Regions from separate parts of the Homo sapiens genome. Here all the other regions are reported to be linked to region 4. Evidence: microRNA targets listed by miRTarBase, many of them from high-throughput screens and not tested one by one. Region 4 holds a microRNA gene; each other region holds the end of a gene's coding sequence.

Region 1 (7,118 bases), not on the chromosome of region 4:
TCCCCCAGGGATCTTAAAATGAAGTTTCTGATTCAATAGGCATGGGTCAAGGCCTAAGACTCTGCATTTCTGACACACTTGCAGGTGATGCCCAGGATGTCTGAGGACCAACTCTGAGCAGCATGTCCCTTGTGCATCTGTTTCTTATTTCACTTGAAAGGTGAATGTTGAGGCCGGGCGCAGTGGCTCACACCTGTAATCCCAGCATTTTGGGAGGCTGAGGCAGGAGGATCACAAGGTCAGGAGATCGAGACCATCCTGGCTAACACAGTGAAACCCCGTCTCTACTGAAAATACAAAAATTAGCCGGGCGTGGTGGCGGGTGCCTGTAGTTCCAGCTACTCAGGAGGCTGAGGCAGGAGAATGGTGTGAACCCGGGAGGCGGAGCTTGCAGTGAGCCGAGATTGTGACACTGCACTCCACCCAGCCTGGGCGACTGAGCAAGACTCCGTCTCAAAAAAAAAAAAAAAAAAAAAAGGAAAAAAGAAAGGTGAATGTTGAAATTCTGCTCCTAGATATATATTCGTGAGAATTGAAAACATGTCCTCACAAAAACCTGCACATGAATGTTCATAGCAGCAATATTCCCAAGAGCCAAAAGGTGGAAACAACCCAAATGCCCATCAATGGATGAATGGATCAACAAAGTGTGGCCTACGTATGCAATGGAAGATTACTCAGCTATAAAAAGAAATGAAGTGCTGACACATGCTGCAACATGGAGGGACCTTGAAAATATGCTGGGTGAAAGCAGCGAGTCACAAAAGAAAACATGTTGTGTGACTCCATTTTTATGAAGTGTTCAGGGTAGACACAAAGTAGATTCATGGTGGCTTAAGACCAAAGGATAGAGGGGACAATGAGGAGTGACTGTTAATGGGCACAGGGTGATGAAAATGTTCTAAAATTAGATTATGGTCATGGTTGTGTAAACTCCTTGAATATATAAAAAATTACTGACTTGTATATTTTATGATGGTTATGCTAATTTTATTGTCTGTGAATTATGCCTCAATGAAGCTGTTTATTTTCTTTAATGTTGATTGTTAAATATTTTACATTTTCCCCTACATTCTACCAGCATTTCTGACCCCCTGGGCATGCAGAGACTTGGCACCCATGATCCTTCAGCCCTCAGGACAGCTGGTAGGGGCAAAGCACTGTACAGACAGGCTCAGAGAAGCGATGTGCCCAGGGCTGTGCTGAGTGACTGATGCCCTGCCGGTTTTCCCCTCTTCCAGGGACAGGGAGGTCAACCAGCTGAAGCAGTGGGTCACCACAATGATGATGTCCATCACCAAGGAGGAGGACACAGCAGCTGAGCTGGAGCTCAAAGCCCGAGTCTTCCACTTCGGCGAGTACAAGGGCGATCAGCAGGTAGGCTGGGGATCAAGGTGGCCAGAGGCCCAGGGTAAGGAGGGACCCTTGGGCACCCACTGGAGGAGCCCTGACAGCCCTTGGGAAGATGGAGGACAAGGCCCGGGTGAGTGCCCTGCAGCTGCCCTTGCCCTGCCTCCCTCCAGGAGCCACCACATGTATTGATGCCTGTGCCAGCCAGCTTGGTTGCCCCCACGCCTCATCCATTGCTTCATTCTTTTATTCAACAAATGTGTCTGCTTCTTAAACACATATATTGTGTCTGGCAAGGTGATCCTGAAGGGGGGGAAGAGGCGTGTCCTCAAGCCAGGCTGAGAGGGTGAGAGAATTGGGAGAGAAGAGAAAGCCAGTGGTGTTCTGAGCAGCAGAAGCCAGGACCCAGACAAAGGCTCAGCCCGCTCCCAACCTGACAGCCTGGGGCCACCCCGGGCATGGGATGGCTTCCTACTGTCAAGTGCCTGCTGTGTGCCAGGCACAGGGCCAAGGGTGTGGGATGCAGCCATGAGCAAGACAGCGCTCCCGATACAGCCAGAATCCATGGGCACTGGCTGTGCCCAGGCTGGGCTGAGCTGCCTGCCTGCTGCTCCTCTCTCCTCATATAGCCCACATGGAGGGGCTGTTATCTGTTTTCTAAGTGTCAGAACAGTCTCAGAGAAGACATAGCCCTGTGGGGTGCCCAGGGTGCAGGGTTCCCTGGAGGAGGGGACTGGGCCCCGTTGGCTCACCAGAGGCAGCTGGGAGAGGGGCTGGAACCAGGGATCTGGCTGACTCCAGGGGGCCCGGGGGATAGGCTGCTCTGGCCAAGAAAAGCCAGTTCCCCAAGTTCTGTTTTAGCCCATGTTCTCAGAGCTCCCACTGTGTGCCAAGCGGTGGCCCCCACCCTGGGAGGTCAGCAGGCCACCGCTGAAGGCACTGGCATGGGGGTGGGTTTCCGCCTGCCAGCACCCTGCTGGAAGCCACCTCCTCCACAGGATAAGCTGCTAGAGAGCCTGAACTGCAAGGTGCTGGATGTGTACCGGCACTGCACCGGCACCCAGCAGGAGGCCAACCTGGGCACCGTGCAGATGCTGACCATCATTGAGCACCAGCTGGATGAGCTGCTAGAGAACCTGGAGCACGTGCCCCAGGTCAAGATCGAGCAGGCCGAGAGGGCAAAGGAGAAGGAGCGGCGCATCAGGTGAGCTCTAGGCTCTCCCTGCCAGCTGCTGTGTCCTGGCTGGCCCTGAGGGCAGAGGGCACATACAGGCCCCACCCTCAAAGCACTCCCAGGAGACAGGCCCCTCCTGCTCTGTGCTATGAGAGACAAAAGCCCATGTCTTGGGGGGATCTAGAGGGGCATCACAGTCAAGTGGGGGGTGGTTAGGGAAAGCTTCCTAGAGCAAACGACAGTGACTCGATGTGGCCAGGAGGCTCAGGGAGGGACAGGGTCTAGAAGATAGAAGAGCTGGAGCTTAGTTAGAGTGTGGCTAGCACGGTCAGCCTCAAATACATGGAACAGCAGTGGAGGGCTTTAAGCAGTGGGGCAAACACGGCCAGGTAGGGTGTGGTTAGATTCTTCCCTCTGGGGCTGGACTGGAGGGGCTGGAGGCTGAGGGCAAGGGCAGCTGCCAGCACCCAGGAGAGAAGGCATGGCTACAGCAGTGTTGCTGGAGCGGAAGACAAAGTGCAGAGGCTCAGAGAGCCTTGGGAGTTTCAGCTCAGAGGGGAGTGGAGGGGGGCAGATGGGCAGCAGCTTGCTATCTGTCGGGACACCAGCCTGAACCCAAGGTAGATGGGGGTTGTGGCTTCCCTGGCCTGTGGGCAGCCCGGTTCATCCACCCCGTGCAGGGCTCTGAGACAGCGCAATCTGCAAACATCCATCCGTCCCCCCAAGCACAGGGGCTTCTCCTCTGGGTCCCTGGTACCCTGCTCAGAGTGGGCACTAGACCAGGCTTTGATGACTGAGAGTATATATAGGAAGGAGACAGGACTCTCGCCCCAGGGGGATGCTGGCCTTCATGGTGGCAAGGGAGGCCACAGGTGCACAGATCAGGCCATGGGTGTAGATTCAGAGAAATGTGCCTCTGGGAGGGGTCTGCTGGATGAACCTTAGATTCAGCCCTTGCAGGAGGCCAGAGCCAGGGCCTCGGAGCAGCAGGGCCCTGGTTGTCCTCCTCTGGGCCTAGGCCACCTTGGCCAAAAGCAGCGGTGCTTTGGCTGTGGATAGGTATTGAGAACTTGACCTGGCAAAAGAGGTGAAGAGGAGCTGGGAGTTTTCTTGAGGGAGGACACGGCCTGGCCTGGGGACTCCGTGTGGAGATTACACAACACCTTCCAGGTCCCCCCAGTTTTCAATGTCATTTCTTGCCACCCAGACTTCGAGAAGAGAAGCTCCAGATGCAAAAGATCCTACAGGAGGAGCATCTGCAGCGGGCCCGGGCGCGCGCCCAGGCTGAGATCAAGAAGAAGGTAGGCAGGGTCGCCTTGGGGGGTCTCTGCTGGAGGGGGTCCCAAGACAGCATGGCAGCTGAGGTCCTGCAGCCCAAGCCCCTGATGCTACCACTCTGAAGGCATTCAATGAGGCTCTGAGGGAGACAGGCTGCCTTCGGAGCAAGGCCTCTCCCAGGACCTGCTTCCTGCAGGGGGCTCTTCCCCAGGCTGCCAGCCCATGGCCCATGCCAGGCTGAGCCTGGTTCAGCCATGCCCACCCACCCCAGCCAGGTACACTCTGCTCAGGAGCAGGGTCCCACCACCCTACCCACACTCCGGCCAGACCCCAAGCCCTGCTCACTGCCCGTCACTGGGGTCCCCCTACTGCTGTGTCCCAAGGCCCCCACCCTTCCTGCCTTCTGACCCTGGCAACAGGAAGCAGGTCCCTCTGCCCCCACATCTAATAGGTGGTGCTCCAGAGACCAGGCTTGATAAATGCCAGGCAGACTCACACCCCCAGTTATTTCAGAGTTAACTCCAGCCCTCAGCCTGCAGGGCTGACCAGAGTGGCCTGGAGGTGACTGGAGCTGCTGGGCCTCTCCCTGCACCAGGGGCAGGGGTATATGGGCATACGGCTCACTAGGCAGCAAGGCTCACTGGGCTTGTTTCCCCTGCAGAGAGGCAGGACACTGGTATGCCGCTCACGACCCCCAGCCCACAGGATCAAACAACAGTCTGAGCACACACTGATGGACAAGGAGGAGGAGGAGCTGCTATTTTTCTTTACTTAATCTTCGCAGACCATAGCTGTTCTGGCTGAAGGCTTAGCAAAGATGTTGGCAGAGGAAGCAGAGACTGGGCTGGGTCTCGAGTGGCCCAACTGAGTCCTCTCTGTCTCCTGTGTGCTCCCTTCCTCACCTGAATAAATTCATGTCTCTCTGGAGTCTTGAAGGCCTGCTTAAGGATGCAGCCACCATTGCCAAATCTCAGCACCCCGCCGGTTCATCATTTAACCCTAAGCAGATGCTTGAGGGCAAGAGCATGACACCTTGGTTCCCATCTAAAACAGCTGCTCTGCGAGACAAAAGCTAATTCCACGCTGAGTGTAGTGTGAGATCAGCCTCTGTGCAAAGACCAAAGAAATACAAGCAGGCAGCTAGGTATATGGCAGGGCCAGCACTACCAACTAAAGGAGAAACAATGGGCTGAATGCCATATATGTAGCTACTTGAATTAAGCCAAGGTGAAAAACCTTCGGTGCATGACTATAAGAAAACTTTCATTCATTTGCACTAGGAGTTAGGCCCATCACCGGCAGGGAACCTTGGTGCCCAGAACACTGGGTGCCAGTCCCAGTCACTTCACGGTGACGTTCCCAGGGAGGCACATGGGAGAAAAATAGAGGCCGAGAGGGCATTCCTGGGGGAAGACTCTCCTCCCCATGGAGATGGGGTGGGTGCGGCTCCACCCGCCATGGTGGCCAAAAGCCTCCCATGGAGGGAGGAGGACTCCGGGCCACCTTGGGGCTAAAGAGCCTGCCAGGTGGGCAAGTTCTCCCCTCGCCTTTAGTTGGTGACAGAGCGCCGGTCTGTGGAGAAGACCCATTTGTCGACGAGGTGTGGATTCTTCCACGTGGAACAGCACCTGGGGACAGCACCTCAGAGTGAGACAAGACAGAGGGAGGACTCACTCAAACTTGATGTCACCCCCAAATTCAAGAAACAAACACAGGGCAGAGTTTGAATGATTCAGTCTGAGAATCAAAACAGCCTCTGAATGAACACATACTTCAAAAGGCACAAGGCAAAAAAAAAAAAAAAAGTCATTTAGGAGTGACCCTGTGTCATTGCTAAGTTGACAGACTTACAAATAAACATGGGCAAGGTGATCACCTTGTCTCCTTTTACAAGACAGACCTCACTCGGTAAAAATATACACTGACGTATTATGTGCACATCAACCTCAATAATAAAACATACACGCGCCATCACAGTCCTACACATAATTTATGGTATTCAGAACATCACTTTATAAACTGTTGCCAAATTACCACTTAAACACTAATATCCAAATACAGAATTTAGAAAATTATTTTAAATTTTAACTCTACCATCCCCCCGAGCTCTCGGCTATGAATTTAGTCTGGGAAGAGGGCTCCGTAATAGGCCACTGAGGTCCTCTGTCCCACCACATCATCCTCCCCCGAAAACTAGCTGCCCGACTGCTCTACCAGACTTGGGCTAGAATTTGGCTTCACGGTGGCAATGGGACCACCTGGGCCCTACAGTGTGGCAAAATCAACTTGCCCACAAACCCCATCCCAGGTGCTGGGATGCTAACACACTGAAGCTGAAAGACCACACTTGGTTTTGCCACAGATCAAGCTGCATCTGACTAGACAGCCTGTTCTCTACCCTATTTCCTGCAGAAGTCTTTTTCTTTGTAATGCAACAAGTGCTACACAGCTCAGATCCAACGGGACACGGGGAAAGAGGCTGTAGTGCACCTAGCCCTGCTGAGGGAGACCCTTGCCTTGCCAAAGCACTTTGCTCACAAAGGCAGTTTCAAAGAGTATAGCCCGAACTCATTCCTGGTAAAACAAAAGGAAAACATTTTTGATAAATGTACCCAAAAGTCTCAAAAGGGCTACGCTGGTCTTCTGAACGGAAACCAAATGAGGTCTCCCCAGGCTCATGTCATGAGTCTCAGGGAAGGTGTGTCCTAGACCGTGGCCTTGGGCCTGCCCAGGCCGAGGCTGCCGTCACTGCAGATCCTGCAGGTTGATAGTGCTTCCTGGGAACTGGGTGGCCTCCGGTCCAGCAGGGCCTCCAGATGAGGGGAGCACCTCCTGCAAAACCAAGCATTGTCATGAAGAGGGAGGAGGGAGGGGAGGCAGAGGGATCCTGTGGCTCCACACAGCAGGACACTGACCAGGCCCGTGGTGAGATACCTGACTTCTCTTACTCAAAACTACAGGCTCCCCTTATTCTAAACACATGTTCTTTGATGAAAAATGAACTCAATACTGTACTGTAAATTTTTCAAGATTGTTCTGTCTGCACATTGACGTATACCCTCACATGTTCATATACCCATATGCCTTTTTACAGAAACAAAATCATCTTTACTTCTGCAACCCTTTCTCCGCACTTCTCACGCGGTGAGCACTCTCCCAGGTATTAGGTGTCCGTCCGCCTGTGCCCTCACAGCTGACCAGGATGTGGCCCAGGGCTATGGAGGCCCCATCTAGCCTGTCTCCTCCTGCTACAAGAAGTGTTCCTGCTGTTGCACCATTTGACTCCGGGCTACGGTGATTATGTCACTACCTTATT
Region 2 (7,118 bases), not on the chromosome of region 4:
CACCTGTCCCCCACCCCGTTTTCTTAGAGGCCTCAGGGATCCTGAAGGTCCGAGCGCTCAAGGATTTCTGGAACCTCCACGATCCCACTGCTCTCAATGTCCGGGCAGGGGATGTCATCACGGTGAGGGACCCCAAGCAGGCATTCCTTTGCAAATACAAATGATTGCTGTTACTTATTTGGGCACCTGCTATGTTACCACGTTCTGCTCTGAGGTCTCTATATGCACCCTCATTTAATTCTTCTTAAAGCCAGGGAAGGCAGTGCTGTTAGCATTTCTTCTTTACAGATGACAAAATTGAGAATTAAACAAAATAAAATCAAGAGAAATTCAAGTGACTTGCCCAAGGTCACACAGCTAGCAAGTAGTGGAGCTGTGATTTGACCACGGGCTGCCACTGGGGCTCGCCCTGGAGGCACAGGGGAGATTGAGCTGGCTGCTGGCAGCAGGGGCGGAACTTGGGCCAGTGTGGGCATCAGAGGCCAGCTCCTTAGGGGTAGGGAAAGAGCTGGACCAGGGTTGCCGGACCGCAGCTGCAGGGACAACCGTTTGCCACTTGCCTGGTGCTGGGAGTGACCGTCCCCGCCCCCCACCCCTGGCCGCAGGTGCTAGAACAGCATCCCGACGGCCGCTGGAAGGGCCACATCCACGAGAGCCAGAGGGGCACAGACCGCATAGGCTACTTCCCCCCGGGCATTGTCGAGGTGGTCAGCAAGCGGGTGGGCATCCCTGCAGCCCGCCTCCCCTCCGCACCCACCCCCCTGCGCCCAGGCTTCTCCCGGACACCGCAGCCTCCTGCCGAAGAACCCCCGCACCCTCTTACCTACAGCCAGCTTCCTCGGGTGGGCCTCAGCCCAGACAGCCCAGGTACATCCTCCCAGGGGGCAGTGCTGGGCACTGTGTGGGCGTGTGGCCTGGGCAAGCTGCCAGACAGCTGTCAGAGCGACACTTGGGACTCTGACCCCTTGGCTTCTGCCCCCCACAGCAGGTGACAGGAATAGTGTGGGCAGTGAGGGCAGCGTGGGCAGCATCCGCAGTGCCGGCAGCGGGCAGAGCTCTGAGGGCACTAATGGCCATGGCCCTGGCCTCCTGATTGAGAACGCCCAGGTAGGATGATGGGGTCACGGACCAGGTCAGGGCTCACTCCCCACTGCCAGTTCCCCAAATGCTGAGTTGGCTCCTGCCCTGTCTCCTCCAGCCACTGCCCTCTGCTGGAGAGGACCAGGTGCTGCCAGGACTCCACCCGCCGTCCCTGGCAGGTAGGAAGGGTCAGGGGACCTGGGTTGGCTAGGAGAGGTGCAAGTAAGGAGGCCGAGGGTGGGCACCCCTTCCTCCTGCCACCTTTCCATTCCATTTTTCTCTCTCCTTGAAGACAACCTGAGCCACCGCCCTCTGGCCAACTGCCGCTCTGGGGAGCAGATCTTCACCCAGGACGTGCGGCCAGAACAGCTGCTGGAGGGGAAGGTGTGACCTCCACGGGGTGCACCGTGGGCCTCGGGGGGGAAGGTGTGACCTCCACGGGGTGCACCGTGGGCCTCGGGGGGGAAGGTGTGACCTCCACGGGGTGCACTGTGGGCCTCGGGGTGGGTAGGGCAGGGTAGAGGCAAGAGCCTCTGTATGGACTGAAGCCCCGCTCAGGCAGGTCCTGAGCCCCTGGTGGGGGCTAGGGCCTTGGTCCAGCTCCTGCTAATTCTGCCCCCTTCCCCCACCCCGCAGGACGCGCAGGCCATTCATAACTGGCTAAGCGAGTTCCAGCTGGAGGGCTACACTGCCCACTTTCTGCAGGCCGGCTATGATGTGCCTACCATCAGCCGCATGACACCTGAGGTGGGTGCTGCAGCCGGGAAGCAGCACCCAGCGGGCGGGGGAGGGCCCAGCAGGCGGGGGAGGGGCCTGATGGCCAGACTTTGTGTGGCAGGACCTGACGGCCATCGGGGTGACCAAGCCTGGGCACAGGAAGAAGATCGCCTCAGAGATCGCTCAGCTCAGCATCGCCGAGTGGCTGCCCAGCTACATCCCAGTGAGCCATCAAGGGTGGCTGGGGAGTGGGGCACGTGCTGTCACCCTCAGCTGTGGCTTTGCGGTGCCTTTTCTCCTCTGGCTGGGGGCGGAGGCTGGCTGGGAGTTGTTCTGAGGACGGTGCTCTTCCAGACGGACCTGCTGGAGTGGCTGTGTGCACTGGGGCTGCCACAGTACCACAAGCAGCTGGTGAGCAGCGGCTACGACTCCATGGGGCTGGTGGCCGACCTCACCTGGGAGGAGCTGCAGGAGATTGGGGTCAACAAGCTCGGTAAGGACTGTCCTGAGGCCTGGCTGGGCCCCCACCTGCCTCCGGGGTCTCCAAGAGAAGACAGTATGGGGCCCAGCGGTGACCAGGACAACCCCAGCCCCAGCTAACCTTGCCACTTCCGTCCCCCATCTCAGGGCATCAGAAGAAGCTCATGCTGGGGGTGAAGCGGCTGGCGGAGCTTCGGCGGGGCCTGCTGCAGGGGGAGGCCCTCAGCGAAGGCGGGCGCCGGCTGGCCAAGGGTCCGGAGCTGATGGCCATCGAGGGACTGGAGAACGGAGAAGGCCCAGCTACAGCTGGCCCACGGCTCCTCACCTTCCAGGGCAGCGAACTAAGCCCAGAGCTACAGGCGGCCATGGCAGGGGGTGGCCCTGAACCACTCCCCCTCCCACCTGCCCGCTCTCCCAGCCAGGAGAGCATCGGGGCACGCTCACGGGGGTCTGGCCACTCACAGGAACAGCCTGCCCCACAGCCCAGCGGTGGAGATCCCAGCCCCCCCCAGGAGAGGAACCTCCCAGAGGGCACAGAGCGGCCCCCTAAGCTTTGTTCTTCACTTCCTGGCCAAGGACCCCCACCCTATGTTTTTATGTACCCCCAGGGCTCACCCTCTAGCCCGGCCCCAGGGCCACCTCCTGGCGCACCCTGGGCCTTCTCCTACTTGGCCGGGCCCCCTGCCACTCCCCCAGACCCGCCTCGACCTAAGCGCCGGTCCCACAGCCTAAGCCGCCCTGGCCCCACAGAGGGGGATGCTGAGGGGGAGGCCGAAGGGCCAGTGGGCAGCACCCTAGGCAGTTATGCTACCCTTACCCGGCGGCCAGGACGCAGTGCCCTTGTCCGGACCAGTCCTAGTGTGACCCCAACCCCAGCTCGGGGGACTCCTCGCAGCCAGTCCTTTGCCCTGCGGGCCCGGCGCAAAGGCCCCCCGCCCCCGCCCCCCAAGCGCCTCAGCTCCGTCTCTGGCCCCAGCCCGGAGCCACCTCCACTAGATGAGAGCCCAGGGCCCAAGGAAGGGGCCACAGGGCCCCGAAGGCGAACACTGAGTGAACCTGCTGGCCCCTCAGAGCCCCCTGGCCCACCTGCCCCGGCTGGGCCCGCGTCAGACACGGAGGAGGAGGAGCCAGGCCCTGAGGGGACGCCCCCATCTCGGGGCAGCTCTGGGGAAGGGCTGCCGTTTGCAGAGGAAGGGAACCTGACCATCAAACAGCGCCCGAAGCCCGCTGGCCCCCCGCCCCGAGAGACACCCGTGCCCCCCGGCCTCGATTTCAACCTCACGGAATCAGACACTGTTAAGCGGAGGCCCAAGTGCCGGGAGAGAGAGCCACTGCAGACCGCACTGCTGGCCTTCGGAGTGGCCAGTGCCACGCCTGGCCCCGCTGCCCCACTGCCTTCCCCAACTCCTGGCGAGTCTCCTCCAGCTTCTAGCCTTCCCCAGCCCGAGCCCAGCAGCCTTCCAGCCCAAGGAGTTCCAACCCCCCTTGCTCCCAGCCCCGCCATGCAGCCTCCAGTGCCGCCCTGCCCAGGGCCAGGTCTGGAAAGCTCAGCAGCTAGTCGGTGGAATGGGGAGACAGAACCCCCGGCCGCCCCTGCTGCCCTCCTCAAGGTGCCCGGAGCAGGTAAGAGGGGAGGCCTGTGGGAGAGTCACTGCTGGCAGGGTTGTGTCTGACCCAGCCAAGTCCCAAGCCAACCTTTTTGTCTCTGCAGGAACAGCCCCCAAGCCTGTGTCGGTGGCCTGCACCCAGCTGGCATTTTCTGGCCCTAAGCTAGCGCCCCGGCTCGGCCCCCGCCCAGTGCCTCCTCCACGGCCTGAGAGCACTGGGACTGTGGGCCCAGGCCAGGCCCAGCAGAGACTGGAGCAGACCAGCTCGTCCCTGGCAGCTGCACTGAGAGCCGCAGAGAAGAGCATTGGCACCAAGGAGCAAGAGGGGTGAGGGGGGCCGGATGGGGAGGGAGAGAAGGCTGCAGAGAAACAGTGCTCCCTGCATCCTCTGCCCAGGGATCATGGGGATGTTGGAGGGGGACATTGCAGGCACTAACGGGATAAGAGGCCAGGTGTTGAAATCACCTAGATCAGGGAATCCTGGTGGCTACCATTTAAGAGGCACAGGAGCCTGGCCGGTCCCTTGCCTCCCTGAGCCTCTGGGAGCTATGACAGCTCCCTGCCCCAGGGCCAGTGGGGTGCAGGCCACTGGCTGATCTGACCGCATCCTTCCCCTTGCTGCAGCACCCCCAGCGCCTCCACCAAGCACATTCTGGATGACATCAGCACCATGTTCGACGCCCTGGCTGACCAGCTGGACGCCATGCTGGACTGAGCCCTCCAGCAGTGCCCACTGTGACCTGCCGAAGTCCACTGCCTTTGCCCCAGCACAGAAGAGGCCCCTGCCACCCTAGGGACGGGCCAAGGGCTGGTCAGGCTGAAGTGCCCCTCCTAGCAGGGCCCCTTCCCACTCAGCCCGCGGCTGTGGGCACCACAGCTCTTGTGGGGCAGCCCACCTTAGAACCTGACTAGCGAGGGACCTCCGCTGCATCTCAGCAAAGCCCCTCCCAGGGTTTGATCGATTGAGCAGGACAGCCCTGCTCCTGGACAGGGACCCTGGTAAGAGCTCTCTCCTCAGGGAGGAAGTAGGGGTGGGGCTTTGGGGGTGCTTTCTCTGTACCCCCCAGCCCATGTCCCAAGTTGTGCCAAGGGAATGCCTCTTGCCACCCACCATCCTGCCCAGGCCCTGAGAGGCTGGAGGAGGCGTGTGTCTGGCCGGGCCCCCTCTCCGTAGGTGTACAGAGGACATGTAAATACACAGCGGTGGTGCCCAGGCAGCTCCTGCCCCCGCCTTCCCTCACTGAGGCAGGGCTAGCAGGGGTGGGAGGCAGTGGGGTTAACAGATCCCACAAGTCCTAACTTTTCAATTGTAAATGTTATTTTCTAAGCAGAGAGAAATGCATATATTTTAAATGGAATTTATTCTATCAACTGCCTGAGAGGACACAATGGGGGAGGGGCTTCGGACCACAGCAGGAGCCCCGACTGCCCACCTGAGGGCAGGGAGAGCCTGACCCCATTGGCCCAGGCCCTGGCTCTGTAACCATTAACCTCTTCCCCCAACTAACACCAATGAAAACACCATTCCACGTGACTGGGCTGTGTGTTTGCCTCTGTGACATGGGGACCCCTGACCCTAGGGGTCTCGCCTGAGCCAGACCTGAGGGACCCACCCGCGTAGATGGAGGAAGGTTTAGGCCTCCCTTTGCCAGCCACCGCCGGGGGTGGGCAGACCCTGGAGTGGCCTTACAGACCAGCCACAGGTATTTCTTAGCAATTGACACATTTTAATACAAACCAGTCTACATTCATTCCTAAAAGGCTCATTTCCAGTAAAAAATATACACCAGTAGAAACTTCTCCCAGAACTGGGGCAGAGGCTGAGGAGACCTGGGCCAGATTCCCCAAGACTGACAGGCAGCCAGCTTGAGCCAGGCACAGGAAGAGGCTCCAGGGCGAAGCGGGGGCCCTGCTCCATCTTCAGGTTCAGGCGGGAGACTCCCCCACAGAGGGAGGGAGGGGAGGCACTCGGGGCCACATCCAGGCAAGCACCACCCCCCTGCCCTCCACGGCAGCCTTGGGAGTTGGACGCGTCGGCCAAGGCTGCTGCTGTTGCTCCTCCAAAGAAGGTTGGCTTCAAGGCCGTGTCCAGGGACCCACGAGCAGAGGCACTGGGGGGCAAGGGATCTCCAAGGGGGCAAGGGATCCCTAAAGGGGGTAGCTCACAGGTGAGGGGGTTTAGGGCCCCTCTAGGGAGCGCCTGAGGCCATACATTCAAGAGTGTCCCTGGTGAGGCCCAGGGAAGAGCCAGGACTGGCCAAGGGCCCAGGCCGTCAGCTCCTCCACAGTGAGCCCCAGGGCTCAGGAAGACAGCGGGGTCTGACACGGGGAGCTGGGTTTCCAGTGCCACGGGTGCAGGAGCAAACCTGGAAACATTCATGATACAAACTCCCCTGTTCAGAAATGGGTCTGGCTTTAGCCCCAGGGACGGGGGCAACTACAGCCACCACAGCCAGTGGCTCAGAAGGGAGAGTTCATGCCCAGCTTAGTTTCAAACTGCAGCTTCTGTCGCTTCTGGTAGCGGACTCGGACCCTGGTGGGGCAGGAGATTAAAGTACAGGTTGGCAAAGATCCTTAGACCAGGGGCCGGGGCAGGACACCAGAGGAGGAGGGAGGGATGGGCAGCGGAAAGGTGGGGGAGTGTCGCCAAGGGAGTAACAGGTTTAGGGAACATGCCTGAGCCCAGAGGGAGGCGCCCTGCTGACAGCTCACCGAATCTCATGTAGCTTCACGATCTCATTGGTCACCACCACAAGGACCAGGGACAGGCAGCCCAGGAGCCATGTCAGCAGGGGCACGTCCTCCAGGCCAAAGTGGACGTGGCTGTCCCTGTGTGTCCACAGCTGCAGGTCCACAGCCGTCTGGACCACCTGACCCAGCAGCCTGCAGGAGGTGGCGGCCCCGTGTGAACCCGACACTGCTTGCTTCCTTCCCTGCTCTTCCCAGTACAACAGTTAGCTCAGGCAGGGTACAGTTAAACCACTGGCCCCGGTCCCGCCCTCCGATCCTAGCCCTGCAGAAGGCCCTCTCCTCCCCAGCCCACACTCCGCCCTCCATCCTAGCAATACTCACACCACAGGCACTGTCACGGCCCACCAGAGGTTGGTCAAGGGGCTCTTTCTCCACAGGGGCTTGGTGCGATGCACATGGGTGATGGAAATGAAGACTGGGGAAGGTGGGGCGATGTGGGGGTCAGACTTCCACAGTGGGGCTCCTCTCCCACCATCATCCACG
Region 3 (7,113 bases), not on the chromosome of region 4:
TTTGAGCATTTTTGTTTTGTTTGTAACATAGACCCTTCAGAACACTGTACGGCTCATTAACAGTTTAAAGGAGTTCCTAAGGATCAAAATGTCATATTCTTAAGTGTTTATCTCTAATAATTTATTAAATGAGCTCACTGGAATTATTTTAGAGCCTTGATTTGTTAAGGTGATTTTTCTCTAACAGGTAATCGCAAGGACTTTCTGTGGGCTTTAGAAAATACTTGATTGAATTCACTGAATTGTTTGTGGACAGCACTGTTATAAGCAAAGTCCTTCCTCCCAAGAATCACCACTGCTCCTCCCTGTTTAACTTTCCCAGCCACCCTGCATGTTCTTCTTTTGTTGAACAAACACTTAATGAGCGTTTGTATGTCCCAGGCACATGTTAGACCCTGCTGACTGGATGGACACTAGGGTTTATGGGGGTTGCCTGTGAGACATTCAGCCTAGTAGAGAAGAAAACATTCTAGGATTGTACACAGATGGTTATCTTCTAACATATCCCTCACACAACTAGTGGATATATAGGGCCTCCCTAAGGAGGAGATTGAATGATCTCTTGCACTCCCACGGGCATCATTGCATGCAAGCCTGGCCCGTAAATCTTCAAGAGGGGTGTTTTCCTTATTTTATAGATTAGGCACAAGGATTAAATGGTAATGCCAAGTTTTGAAAGCAATTTTTTTAACTCTGAAAATATTCTGTGATATGCCAAGTGATTTTTTTTTGTCTTCCTTTATTATTTTATATTAACTTTAGCATACAAAGGAAAGAACTTTACAAATAGAATCCTGTACTACTGAGGCTCTTTTGAGTGTTTTTCTCTTAAGATGATAATGGAAAGTCACTTCTTAAAAAAGTGACAGAATCACTTCTATTTAGCTAAATTTTTACTCTCAACTCCAGTAAGTCTATATAGAACATATTTTATTATAATCTGTATTCATTTGTTTAACTTCTTTTCTTTTTAGTGGAGTTGGATCACAGGATTGATTTTGAACTCAGAGAAGGCCTTGTGGAGAGCCGCTATTGGTCAGCTGTCACGTCGCATACTGCCTATTGGTCATCCTTGGATGTTGCCCTTTTTCTTTTAACCTTCATGTATAAACATGAGCACGATGATGATGCAAAACCCAATTTAGATCCAATCTGAACTCTCTTGAAGGACATGAATGGCCTAAAACTGATTTTTTTTTTTTCCGTTAAAATGTGTGTGTCAAGATACGGAGATTTCAGGGTTAAAGTATATTTCAGTTTTCTTTAGGGCAACATATATTTGAATTTAAAAGCACTTTATTTAAAAAAAAAAGAAGTTTTCAGTTCTGAAGAAGTCATTTACAGTTTGCATCATTTTAATTATGAGTCTGACAAAACCTTCTCCAGAGAATCAAGCAAGACCTGGATGTGAAGAAGGTTTGGGTAAACTGCATGTAAAGGCTACAAATCACAATCTGATTCCTCCCAAATATAAAGGCATATGGAACATAATGTATTAACCAAAGTATGTTATAAATCAAAAATGGTCAAGGTTCAGCATATTCTATATGAAGATCACAAGGTGGTATCGTTTTAGATTTCTATGAAGGCTTTCATTTGTACATCCCTTTGAAAAAATATAACAGATTTAAAATGTTTTGAATTTAACTTGTTTAGAAAAACTAATGCTTAAAACAATATTTGAACTACTGTATTTATAATTTATTACCTCTAATTGCTTTATTTCAGTGTATGAGACATTACTGTTTTAATGTTTGCTTTGAACATAATTTAAGAACCAGATTTATTTTCTATAGTGATAAACCCTTTTTTCTCAGAACTCCATCTTTGTACTCTTCAGATGAATATATAGACACTGTGGCATACATTTTTTTTCATTAAAAACTTATGGCTTCATACAACACTAGTTCAATTTTTTAAATAAACTTTTTATTATGTTACATGTACTTCAGAGAAAGCTAAAGTTTCTCTAAACTTGACACGGAGTACTCCATAATGGGTACATTTCATTAGCTTTATTAGAAAACTAGTAAATGCTTTTGAATAGGTAGTATGACAGCTATTTTAAATGTATAAACATTTGTGTGCCAAACAACATATATGAAGGGATGTGATGCCACTAACTAGTGCACATTGTTTCTCAATGTGCCATTGAGACACAAGGCACAGTAAGTCAGGATTCTGAGGCATTGGAAGGGTTTTCTTCAGCTGTAATTGTTTCCACAGTGCTTTTCATCTGAGGGGCTCAAAGTTTAAGAGTGCATTCAATAACCCATGTACTAGCTTCTTGAGGTAAGTAAATAAATCTTGTTCTCATGTTACATGTTAATACACCAAGGCACCAAAACATTTAAAGTGCCATGAATTAGATTACATCAGAAATCAGAAAAGCTTGGATTGAGCTAGTCACCGTGGTTCACGCCTGTAATCCCAACACTTCGGGAGGCCAAGATGGGAGGATCTCTTGAGCCCAGGATTTCAAGACCAGCTTGGGCAACATAGTGAGACCCTCTTCTCTGCAAAAACTGACAAAAATTAGCCACTTGTAGTGGTGTACACCTGTAGTCCCAGCTACTCAAGAGGCTGAGGTGGGAGGATCACCCGAGCCCAGAAGTTCAAAGCTGCAGTGAGCTCTGATCACACCAATGCACTCCAGCCTGGGTGACAGAGCCAGACCCTGTCTCTAAAAAACAAAAAAGAAAAGCTTGGGTTGAAGCCAGGCCATATTCTTTTATATGCTGTTCAATGACTTGATTCACATGTGACCTTTTAGTAGTTTGCAAACAATAATAACAGAAGTTGCAATTCATAATTCAGAGAAATGACCATGAAGCCGGTGTTTCCCTGCTTGATTTCTATGTTCTTGGATTCTCACACAAAAGAGGAGTTACCTAGAGGGGATCAGTAGCCATCCCTGTTGCACACAACCCTCACTTCTGAGTGGTTTCCACTAGGTTCCACTTAAGGTGCTGTCTTTTCTTAACTTGCAAGGAATTGCTTAGCTTCCCAATAATCATTGTCAAACTGGGAGCAAAGTTGGTCAGCTGTATCTCTCACCTCCTCCTTTCTTCATAAGATAGTAGAATCTGTGGCTTACTTGTAGGTTTTACTTAGTGCTTCAGTACTGTTGGCTGTTTTGGCCTTTTGCTGAATTTGCACAACAACATAAAGCACTTCTTTTTAATGTTTAAAAAAAATTCCAAGGCTCCATGACCAAGTATGTGACTCACTAAGAAACCCTTGCTATAAAAGGCTTTTGATGAAATCTTAGCAAAGCTAAATTATCTCTAACTTAGAGATTCCTATGAACTCAGGTCATTTTCATAGCCTGTTTATTTTGTAGGTCTAATTTAGTTCTCAGGAAAATTAAACTCATGCTATATGACTGTATCGTTAAAGGTACTTGAGCGTATGTTGCTGTAGGTGGTATGACACTCAAATGCATAAGAACTTGAAGGGATTTATTCTTAACCACTAGAATATGAAGAGCCCTTTTTACCTGAGAAGAGTGAAATTATGTCAGACCTTTTAATTTGATATCACTGAGTAAAAGGTATGTTCCTATAGCCATAGGAATATGTCTGCTTCCTTTTTTTCATGTTGAGAAAACAGTCAAATTTAACCATTTGGAGTTTATTTGAATTCTTGGAAAGAGCAATATTCAAAACCTTTTCAAAAATAAGATATTCTGGACTACTGGATGGATGTTTTGTTTTCAGTTCATTTTTCATCAGTAGAGATGGTGATTTCGGTTTTGTAGTATCCTTGTTTCTATGTCTGTGCATGTTAACATTGGATGTATTTGTATATACTTAATTAATATACAGACTGTGTGTCATTCTGGCTTGATTAGAAGCTAAGTCAGTTACTGAGTAACATTTTGCAACTTTATTCCAGCAAGTACTAAATCGGCCAAAAAAAGTTTTGTTTTTGATACCATTAAAATTTTATTCTCTATTTTGTGTACATGCTATGATGATTCTCCCAAGTACTGATTAGATCACTGAACTTTAGTTAGCTTCCCAAGAATTATTAACCGTTAGAATAAGACTTAGATTAAATCTTGCTTTATTTTTACTTTAAAATTAGTCTTGCTAAGGCCTTATGTTAGTTCATACTTTCTTTTCAACAGTAATCTTGTTTATAATCCAGTGTTTCTGTGTTTTAGGACATAATTTAAAAATATACTGGATTTTGGCCAGGTGTGGCAGCTCATGCCTGTAATCCCAGCACTTTGGGAGGCCAAGCAGGGAAGATTACTTGAGCCCAAGAGTTGAAAACCAACCTGGACAACATGGTGAAACCCAGACTCTACAAAAAATGCAAAGATTAGCTGGGTGTGTTGGCAGACGCCTGTGGTCCCAGCTACTCAGGAGGCTGAGGTCGGTAGGACTGCATGATTCCGGGAGGTCAAGGCTTCAGTGAGCCAAGATTGCACCACTGCACTCCACCTTGGGTGACAGAGCTGGACACTGTATCCAAAAAAAAAAAGTATGTATTTACACACACACACACACACACACACACACACTGGATGTTCTAATAACTGCTCTTTTGTATGTGAAGCAAGCCTTAGGAATCTTACGTTTTACTTCTTTCTGTTAAACGGCATCTGTTATCTTTTGAAGTACTCACACTGAACATGCTTCATGCTGAATACTCACGCTAAAGGCCTCAGACATGTAAACATTCATCCTTAGTCTCTTTTTTCTCTGTTTTCTCATTGGGAGCTGAAGCATCCTAGTCTGCAGAAAATTTAACACACCATATTCCAGCTTTGCATCACCTAGACAGTAGACAAAAGGAAAAGAAATTGTCAGTACCGTATCACAGCTAGTGCCTCTGTTCATTCCAGTGATAGTACATGAGCCCCTTCCAGTGGAGTCAGATCAAGCCAAAAGATTTTCCTGTAAAGTCTGTAGTAGAAGACAAATTTCTTTTTGATCCATTAGATTGGTATTTCTATCTTCTCAGCTAATTAATGAGTAAGGCATGTGGACAATCGAGAAAACTAATTTGAGTGTATGTATTAAAATTGCTCTTCTAAAAACACGTAAAATATTAAAGATCAAGGCAGAGCAAAAAAGAACGTAGCAATCATATACTAGAAAAAGAAACTAAGTTTTGCTAAACTATGTTTGGGTTAGTTGACCTCTGTAGCTATTCTAAAGTTTTCTATCCCTTATCTGTATTCCGCTGTCATTCCTGTGCCTCAAGCCTCTGCCAGGAATCTGATGGTACTCTGGCTGAACTTAAAACATAAGAATCTCAAAGGTCTCATTTAGTAAATGTTAGTGCTAAGTTGGTGACAGCCTGGGTTATATGCTTTCTCTTTCAGTCTTCAGTAGATGCTTGTGATAGTTTTCAAAGAACTGTAAAATTTCCGGGTCTGTACAGATTTTTAGAGATCATTTAATCCAACCCTGTTACAGTATCATGTCAGCATTTAAATAGCAGTAAAGGTCATGAAAAGTGAAGTGAAAGGCAGCAAACTCCATGAAAAACTAAATACAGTGACAACTGAGGGAAGTGGTAAAGTAAAAAAATATTAATGATGGAATTTTAAAGCTGGAAGGGGCATAGAGACCATTCTTTTCTCAATAATATTCTGCAAATATTAACAGGTGTCATGTCAGAAACTAAGTTTAGGAATTGACAAATTCAAAAATCTCCCTTACAGCAGGGCTTTGAGAGCCTTTGCTACACTAAATGCTCTGTGAATCTATCTGGTGCTGCGTGGGGGCCTCCAAATTTATTTAACCATATTTTTTAATTTGGCATTTACCTAGAGAAATGCTATCACATTTAATTCCTTCGTTTTACAGTTTCACCTCCTCATGTGATTCCTTCATTTTGTAAGTGACCGATTCCACCCTATACAATCACATGGCCAATGAATGACAGTCAGAATTAGAACCTAGTCCCCTGATTCCCAACCATGTCTTATACCAGACTGTTTCCCCTAATCGATAGGAAACTACTCCTAAAGGGCAGAAACTGCCTCTCTTTGTTTTTGTCCCCCAACCTCCCCTCCACACATACACCTCTGTAATCTGATGCTTTAAGCTCAGATTAAAGCATCAGCAAGCTTTAATCTGACACATGGCCGTAGGCTTGAGTTAGCAGTTGGTCCCTTCTTTCTTCCAGACTCTCATAAGAGTACCCTATCAGGTCTGGACAGACTTCCGTTTATGCCTCAGATTCAAAATACCCAGGAAAAAGAAGAAGAAATACAAAACAACAAAAAGAAAATCAAGAAAAAAATAAGATATCCAGGAAATATTTTGTTAGTTTTCTATTCTGGTGACAAATGCAAACTTAAGGAAACAAGTTGCACAGTGTTAACTAATGTTTAACATTCCTTTCCATAGTGTTTATGTGGGCCTTTTATCAATTCATGACAAATAGGTCACCTCCAAAACTGTTCCAACATAGGTTAACTCAGAAATTTAAAATTTAAGTACTATCCTTTTTGGAGACTATGAGAAGAGTTTTTACTATTGTGTTTTGTTTTGTTTTTTGGTGTGTGTGTGTATGTATGTGCATTCCCCAAAAATAGTCCATTGGCAGATTGTTAGGGTGAACTTTTCCTCTGCCTTTGTGTTTGTATAAGGGCGGGTGCATGCTTAGTATTGTCTGCTACCTTATGGTTTTTCATTTATATGTAACATGGTACAACTTGCTTCCTCCCCACCCAACAGTTGTCAGGATATGTTGGGGAATATTCTTTAGGAAGATTACATCTGGTCTTCTGTTGGAGTAAGATGAAAAACAAGTATGTTAACACTTGACCTTTACTGCTTTCTCCTGGAAGACATTGAATATCTAGGAGCGTCACTCATACCTTCCCTTGACTGTACCCACACCCACTGCGGTCCCTGCTTGATCTCTCAAACTTTTTGTTTCCCTTTGAGCTTCATGACAAAAAATTATAACCATTTTCTGGTTCTAAGGCTGCCATAATCCCAACTTTGCCAGTAAGAAGATGGAGAATTTTTGCTCATAGGGACATTTCTCAGAAGCAGCTGGCACCATAACTCTCCTGAGACCCTTGTTTCCTTTCTTTCAGCTCCTATGACTTCTTATGTTCACTCTCTCTAACACTACTAAATG
Region 4 (7,118 bases):
ACTGGAGTGCAGTAGTGTGATCTCAGCTCACTGCAACCTCTGCCTCCTGGGTTCAAGTGATTCTCCTGCCTCAGCCTCCTGAGTAACTGGGACTACAGGCATGTGCCACCATGCCCATCTAATTTTTGTATTTTTAGTAAAGACAGGGTTTCACCATGTTGGCCAGGATGGTCACGATCTCTTGACTTCATGATCTGCCCGCCTTGGCCTCCCAAAGTGCTGGGATTACAGGTGTGAGCCATTGCACCCGGCCTCAACACCTCTTATCATAAGGTAAATGCAAGTTTAAACTACATTAAGGTATCACGTCACACCTGTTAGAATGACCATTGTCAAAAAAACAAATGAGAAGTGTTGGTGAGGATGTGGAGAAAAAGAGAGCCCTTGTATACTGTTGAGGGGAATGTAAATAATTAGTATAGCCATTTTGGAAAATAGTAGAGAGGTTCCTCAAAATACTAAAAAGAGAATTACCGTATGATCCAGCAATCTCAGTTTTGGGTATATATCTGAAGGAATTGAAAATTGGTACATCAAACAGACATCGACAATCTCATGTTCACTCCAACTTTATTCCCAATAACTAAGATATGGCAGCAACTTAAGTGTTCAATAGACGAATGGATTAAAATAAATGTGGAATATATAAACAATGGAAAATTATTCATCCTTAAAAAGGAAGGAAATTCTGCTATTCCTGACAACCTATGTGAAACTGGGGGACATTATGCTAACTGAAATAAGGGAGGCACAGAAAGATAAATACTTATGATCTTATACACATGTGGAATCTAAACAATTTAATTTCATAGAAACAGAATAAAAATGTGGTTACTGGAGGTTGGGAGAATGGGAGAGGAATAGTGATAGGAGAGATGTTTATTAAAGTTTACAAAGCTTTACTTAGACTACAGGAATAAGTTTTAGTGATCCTATCGTATCGCATGGAGACCACAGTTAATAATAATGTGTTGTATATTTCAAAATTGCCAAAAAGAACAGATTGTTAACATTCTCACCATCAAAAAATGATAAATTCTTGAGGTGTTAGATATGTTAATTACTTTGATGTAATTTTTCTACAATATGTTTGTAGATCAAAATATCACATTGTGGAGTTCAAGACCAACCTGGCCAACGCGGCGAAACCTTGTCTCTACTAAAAATACAAAAAATTAGCCAGGTGTGGTGGCACGTGCCTGTAATCTCAGCTACTTGGGAGGCTGAGGCAGAAGAATCACTTGAATCTGGGAGGTGGAAGTTGCAGTGGGCTGAGATTGCACCGTTGCACTCCAGCCTGGGAGACAAGAGCGAAACTCAGTCTCAAAACAAAAAACAAAAAACATAAAACAAAAACTAAAACAAAAAAATCACATTGTATCCCATAAACATATATAATTAGTATTAGTCTATTAAAAATAAATACATAGGTAAATGAGAATTCTAAAAACACAATTATTGGATAAAAGTTTACAAGCATTGTTAAATTATTGATAAAATTATTTCCATAACATTTAAATCAGATCATACTCTCATGAGCATTGTATAGTTCTGAAGGCAATGAACAGAAACCATCCTTAGCTAAATAAAATAGGACTTATTTTAAGCCATTAAAATTATTATAGACACTGAAAACAGCCATCAAAAAAAAAAAAAAAAAAAAAGCAGAGCAAAGATGGCTGGGAAAATGGTTTCTGGACCTGGAGCTTTTTGGACTAAAGATTTTTCATCCGTCTCTCAGGGAACTGCAAAAATCTCATGTCTATTTCTTGTAGCTGCTTTTCACTAACCAACTTCCATCTTTTATTTACTTTTTTTATATATAAACAAAGAAAAATGTTAATCTATTCCAAAGCTTCATGAAATTATACATTTTGTACACACCTTCTACTCCTGAAGGATTTATGTTTATCTTAATTCAAATTCATAAGAATGAAAATATAAAAGTTTCAGTCAAATGGATGGATTGAGTCCCTTTGGCACAGGTGTGTACTTCTGATCTAATTTGCCATAGCTGGAAGGGTGTGTTTCCATGTTCAAAAAATAAAGTAATGGAAATGGAAAAATCAAGCCCAGAAGTTTCAGCAGAAACCAAAGACAATCCAGTATAGCATGAGAACATTCATGTCACCATCACTAAATTTTCTTCATCAGTTAGCTTTACTAAAGAAATATTACATCTCATGGTTTTAATTTGAATTTTCATAAGTGAAGCAGAATTTTACATCATGTAGGTCTCACTCATTTGCTTTACATCTGTGACCGCTCTGTTCATGTCCACTGTTCATTTGTCTCTTTAGTTGTTAATTTTTTCTTACTCCTTTTTGTATATTAAAAATGTCATATATTAAGTGTATTAATCTTTTTTCTTTCTTATTGTTCATATTCATTTTCATTTGGCTATCTGCCTTTTCATTATATGGTTATTTTTGACACGTTATAGTTTGAAGTTCAATGTAGTCAAAGTCATGCTTGTCTTTTCTTTTTGCCTCGTTTGTGTTAAAATTGAAAATGTTCTTCATCATTTCAAGGATATTAAATTTTCAACTACGTTTATTTTAGAAAATTTTCAGAAATTACATTTAATTCATTAATATACTGAAATTAAGCTTGAGAACTTGTACGAAGTTCCAGATATTATCTTTTTCTCATTTAGCTAATATTCACAATGCTTTTCCCGCCAGAACGATCCATCTATTAAACATTTTATTCCAAGTGGATTAAACGGTTTCACAATATGATTACATTTTTAAAATCACTTTTTAAAATACTGTGAAGAAAATATTGAACAGATGGATGGCTGATGGTGGGAGTTAGGAGACCATTGGAATAGTCCAAGTAAGAGGTGTGCGTTTCTGGACTAAAGTTCAGTAGAAGTATACAGAATAATTGAAATATTAGCAAGATAAAAAGTGAACATCTTCAGGACTGTGCGATTGTATGTTTAGAAAAGGAGAGGAAGCAAGGTCCAGGAACATGAAATGAATTGAGATTTATGGCTTTGGTTTCCAAGTAGATCAAGAGTGTTATCCCTTGGGAAAAAGATGATACGTTATCTGTAGTCATGGATGGGCTTTGGTCTGTGAGAAGAGCAGAAGACAGATATGTAGCTTTGGGATGTGTAAGCTGGAGATAAAGACTTGGGTATCTGCAGCATCTGAGCAGATGTAAACATCATTCACGTGCCTGAGATTCCTTCAAAGATTGTGAGACAAGAGAAGAGAAAAAAAGCCATAAAGTTAAGAATGGGTCTCAGAAGGATACTGGCATTGGGAGTTCAAGCAGATGAAGAGCTTCTTAAAAATAAATAAATAAATAGGACATCACTGTAATAAAGAGAGAAATCCAAATGAGAGTAGGATCACAAAAGTGAATGGGGACTGGAGTTTAGGAAGAAGTGGTCAGCTGTGTCAGGCATCAAGGGGAGTTCGAGTAGGACAACTGGCAGAAAAGTTTGATTTGTATTTGGCAATATGGAGCTCACTGGTGATTTGGGGAAAAGCAGTGTCATTAGAATGATGTTATGCACAAGTGGGAGAGAGAAATGGTAGAAGATGCCAAATTACATATAGTTGAGGTGAAATGGGAAGTAAACAAATATAGACAGTGCTGCAGGCTACTATGTACTATTTCTAAAATCTTAGCTTTTAAAAAGAAGAAAAGAAGTGGGGTAAGTAACTTGAGGATAAAGCAAGTATAGAGAAGTTTTTCTCAAATTTCTTTTGTTTTCTATTTGAGAAGAGAGAAAACTGAACCTTGTTACATGTGAAATGGAGCCAGATGGTGAGAGAGGAGGGGGATATCACAGGGGAAGAGATGTCCCAAGCAAGGCAGGAGGCTCACGTGAGACAACTCAGGGCAGAATCCTACGCATTCATAGGCTATAAACAAGGAAGTGGAGGGAATAATCACATGGACTCAAGCTTCTCAATGAAAAACAGAAGTCAGTTCATCTGTTGAGAGTGGAATCGTGGAAAGGAGCAGTTGAGGAAAGAGGTAAACATTTAGGCTAAACATGAGGGAGTGGAGTAGAAGAAATGCTGGGTCAGAGTTGAGGGACTGAGGCACTTGGAGGCCCCTGAGTATGTGTATTAATGTGTCCATATGATGATGTGATTTTATTTTTCAGCAACACTGATATTGAAAGGACAGTTGCCTTGGAGATAAGAGAATGAGAAACTAGAATGGTAAGAAGTGATAGACAGAGTGGGATATTAGATATCGAATGTGGTAAAATATTTTAAGGTTATGATGAGGTCAAGAGCCGGGTCCCAGCAATGGGTTTCTGTAATGGGAGTTAAAGGCAAATGGGATTTAAAAGATCAAGGAAAAGAAAGGATAATTTATTTGACCATTAAAAAAAAATGAACATTGAAGCCATCCAGGTACTCCAAACATAGACACTTGAGAAAGCATTTTATTTTGCTATATAATTATTATCATTACAAATGGTAAACTTAAAACTGCTGTGATCAAATTTAATGACAGATGTCCTATATAAAAATGCAGAGGCAAACCACTTAAGAAAAACCATGATATGCATAGGCTTTTACTTGCAAAGTCAGATGAGTAAACATGAGGCAATTAATGGGCCATGACTGTAAGTCTAACCACGCAGTTCATGCACATAGAAAGTGGGTAAAGTTTTAAAGTGGAAATTGAATTGGGAAAATCAATCTACTATATGACTGTCATGAGTGTTCTGATAGTTATATAGTTATGTATATATTATTTTCTTCGTATTTAGCATGTTACATAGCAAGAGGCAGAATTATATGAGCAAATCCTCACCCAGAGAAGCAGAAAGCTAAAATTATCTGGTGTTTCTATCCCACTTTGACCAGAACATCTAACAAAAGTTGTAAAGAACACATATTTGTAAGTGTGTTATTGTCAATGGCATGGGTGCTGAGGTCCTACTTTATGTCTTTTTTTCACTCACACTACAACAGTAGGAAGGTGAGCTAACCTAGATGATGATACTGTACGTTTGATGGACAAAATAGTTTTGCCTTTTCTAAAACATGCTCTGTTTATAGCATACAAAAGATAGAGAAGCATTATTCTTGTTTAAACCAGAGTCTTTTTCATTGAAATCTCATCACATGATATAAATTGAATAAATAAACCAGAAGATGCTGACGAATTGGAAAACTTAAAGAACAATAGTACTATTTTGAACACATCTTTCAAAGATGGAATATCTGTTGATTGTGACAGCAAAAAGCGGGGCCACAGTTGCATTCATTGTTCAGTGAGCTTGTCCACACAGTTCAACCCACCGACAGCAATGAATGTTGATTGTGACCTTTTAAAAAATAATCTCTGCACAGGGAAGAGAAAGTCCTGGTGTGTCCACCTTTGGTTTCCTGTCTTCAGCGAATTCTGAGCACCATGGAGTAGATGATGGTTAGCCATAGGGTACAATCAACGGTCGATGGTTTTGATTTTAATTCCAAACTCACCGACAGCGTTGAATGTTCACTGAAGCAACCTCAAAACTCAGAATTCTACTCACTTTACAGTATCTGTAAGTATCTGAAGGGGATGGGAGACAGAAACAACAGTACCTTTAGTCATATATTTTATGCATTTTTATGCCATTTCAAAAGACTACAAAAGAAGACAAATAAGAAGCATGATTCTTCCAACAAAGAGTTTGGCAAACCTCCACATCACATTGTATGAGAGAAAAGGATCGGTTTCATTAAGCAAAAACATGGCCGATATTGGGCTAGTTCCAGAGATGGAATTATCTCACTGTTAAAGACAGGGACAATTTGTTATTCAAAGTACTTTGTGGTATAAAATCCAAACAATATCTTATAATTTAAATATTGTTACGCTTATAGTAAGCAAGCATTATGTATATAGCTTATACAGAAATTAAACAGAATTACCTTAGATTTCCTCAAATTGGCATTGATGATATCATTTATATTTACATTATATATTTACTATATTTTATTCTAAAATAAGGTTTTAAAATTAGTATAACTTCCTAAGAACAATCTTATTTAGAAAATGCTGAACAAATTATAAGTGAAGAAACCAGCTCAATACATTTTTCTTAGTTTATGGCACAAAGAGTTCATGAATACAGTGAAAGGTAAATACAATCTATGTATGCTACAAAACCGTTCATTTCCTATTATTTTAAATAACATCTAACATCTAACATCTCTTTATGGGTAGATGGGTGAGGGATTCTTTTCATAGTCTTATTTTCTAAGACTGTTTTATCATTAATGCTTATTTTAAAATTATTATGAACTCTACTGAATTTATTTTTAGAGCCATTTTCAATAATTTTCTACCATCAATTAAAACAAAAGTCACCTTGGATGTATCTAAACCAGAATAGAAAGTCATTATTTCACACATTTAAGTTGCATCTAATATGGTTATAGAGTAATTATCTGTAGGAGGGACAACCCACAATAATTTGGAATGCTACTTTGAAGGTGATAATGGTCTATTCAAGTCAAGGCAATTACTCTCGAAATGTTAGTGAAATATGTATCCCAAATTTTTACACATTCTTACATTTCAGTCACTTAGAATTATTTTAAAGCCAATAATTGTTTAACCTTTTAGACAAACTATTTACATGAAAACTTCAACAGATTTTTTTTGAGAGAAACAGGGACTAGAGATCAACTGGAAGTAAATTTTAAAGTGACAAATAGGCACAGAATATGAAACAGTGATGTATCTGAATTTTGCATTGTTTAATTCTTTTGAAAGAAGCAAATTTCTCCCACAGAATAAAACCCTAGAAGAATGCTTTATCAGTAGGCATTTCTGTGTTGCTGCTGGAAAGAATATTATCATGAGACTGAGGATTCATTTGTTTGCATTATCAATTACGACTGAAAGCATATCACTCCTGTTCTGTTGCCTGCCTATTGTGGTATTAGTGTCAGGTCAATATACAACTGTTTTCAATCATGCCTATTCATCTCTTGCTACATCTGCTAACGTTTGTATAATAGGGATGTTGTGATAAAAGACTCCATGCTCTGTATTTTCCCTTAACACAAAATGCATTTGGCCTACCAGTAAGCAAAGCTCTAGGTCAGTTACAAATAATTAAAAGGCATAACTATGTTATCTTT

The links. The annotated mature microRNA hsa-miR-181b-5p reads AACAUUCAUUGCUGUCGGUGGGU and lies in region 4 at 5,277-5,299, opposite strand. An mRNA with a match to its seed (bases 2 to 7 or 8) in the 3' UTR can be bound and repressed. Matches are read on the target gene's strand: a 7mer-m8 pairs with bases 2 to 8, a 7mer-A1 pairs with bases 2 to 7 and ends in A, and an 8mer does both.
Region 1: miRTarBase lists ZXDC as a target of hsa-miR-181b-5p. The part of its 3' UTR that is shown has no 7-base or 8-base seed match.
Region 2: miRTarBase lists TMEM94 as a target of hsa-miR-181b-5p. Seed matches in the 3' UTR shown: 7mer-m8 at 6,257-6,263, 8mer at 6,094-6,101 and 8mer at 5,628-5,635.
Region 3: miRTarBase lists DDHD1 as a target of hsa-miR-181b-5p. The part of its 3' UTR that is shown has no 7-base or 8-base seed match.

The regions. Positions count from the first base shown.
Region 1 is chr3:126,431,828-126,438,945 of GRCh38, forward strand. It overlaps ZXDC (ZXD family zinc finger C), which reads right to left. Exons shown (of 10, transcript NM_025112.5): 10 at 5,774-6,634. The coding sequence ends at 6,548. CFAP100 (cilia and flagella associated protein 100) reads left to right here. Exons shown (of 17, transcript NM_182628.3): 14 at 1,242-1,377; 15 at 2,349-2,554; 16 at 3,732-3,825; 17 at 4,464-4,729. The coding sequence ends at 4,577. LOC124906280 reads right to left here and starts at 2,355. Exons shown (of 1, transcript XM_047449418.1): 1 at 969-2,355. The coding sequence starts at 1,916. The coding sequence ends at 1,371.
Region 2 is chr17:75,498,561-75,505,678 of GRCh38, reverse strand. It overlaps TMEM94 (transmembrane protein 94), which reads right to left. Exons shown (of 32, transcript NM_014738.6): 30 at 6,957-7,050; 31 at 6,597-6,767; 32 at 5,227-6,417. The coding sequence ends at 6,345. CASKIN2 (CASK interacting protein 2) reads left to right here. Exons shown (of 20, transcript NM_020753.5): 10 at 28-122; 11 at 606-867; 12 at 986-1,107; 13 at 1,199-1,259; 14 at 1,373-1,464; 15 at 1,717-1,827; 16 at 1,919-2,020; 17 at 2,152-2,290; 18 at 2,425-3,900; 19 at 3,989-4,211; 20 at 4,509-5,418. The coding sequence ends at 4,599. It overlaps MIR6785 (microRNA 6785), which reads right to left; the gene lies at 7,051-7,118. Among named protein-coding and RNA genes, the nearest start is that of MIR6785, 3.6 kb to the right of the region's middle. RefSeq lists an enhancer at 980-1,119.
Region 3 is chr14:53,040,811-53,047,923 of GRCh38, reverse strand. DDHD1 (DDHD domain containing 1) reads left to right here. Exons shown (of 13, transcript NM_001160148.2): 13 at 975-7,113. The coding sequence ends at 1,156. Among named protein-coding and RNA genes, the nearest start is that of FERMT2, 93 kb to the right of the region's middle.
Region 4 is chr1:198,853,649-198,860,766 of GRCh38, forward strand. It overlaps MIR181B1 (microRNA 181b-1), which reads right to left and starts at 5,334; the gene lies at 5,225-5,334. All of the region lies in intron 2 of MIR181A1HG (MIR181A1 host gene), which reads right to left. MIR181A1 (microRNA 181a-1) reads right to left here and starts at 5,505; the gene lies at 5,396-5,505.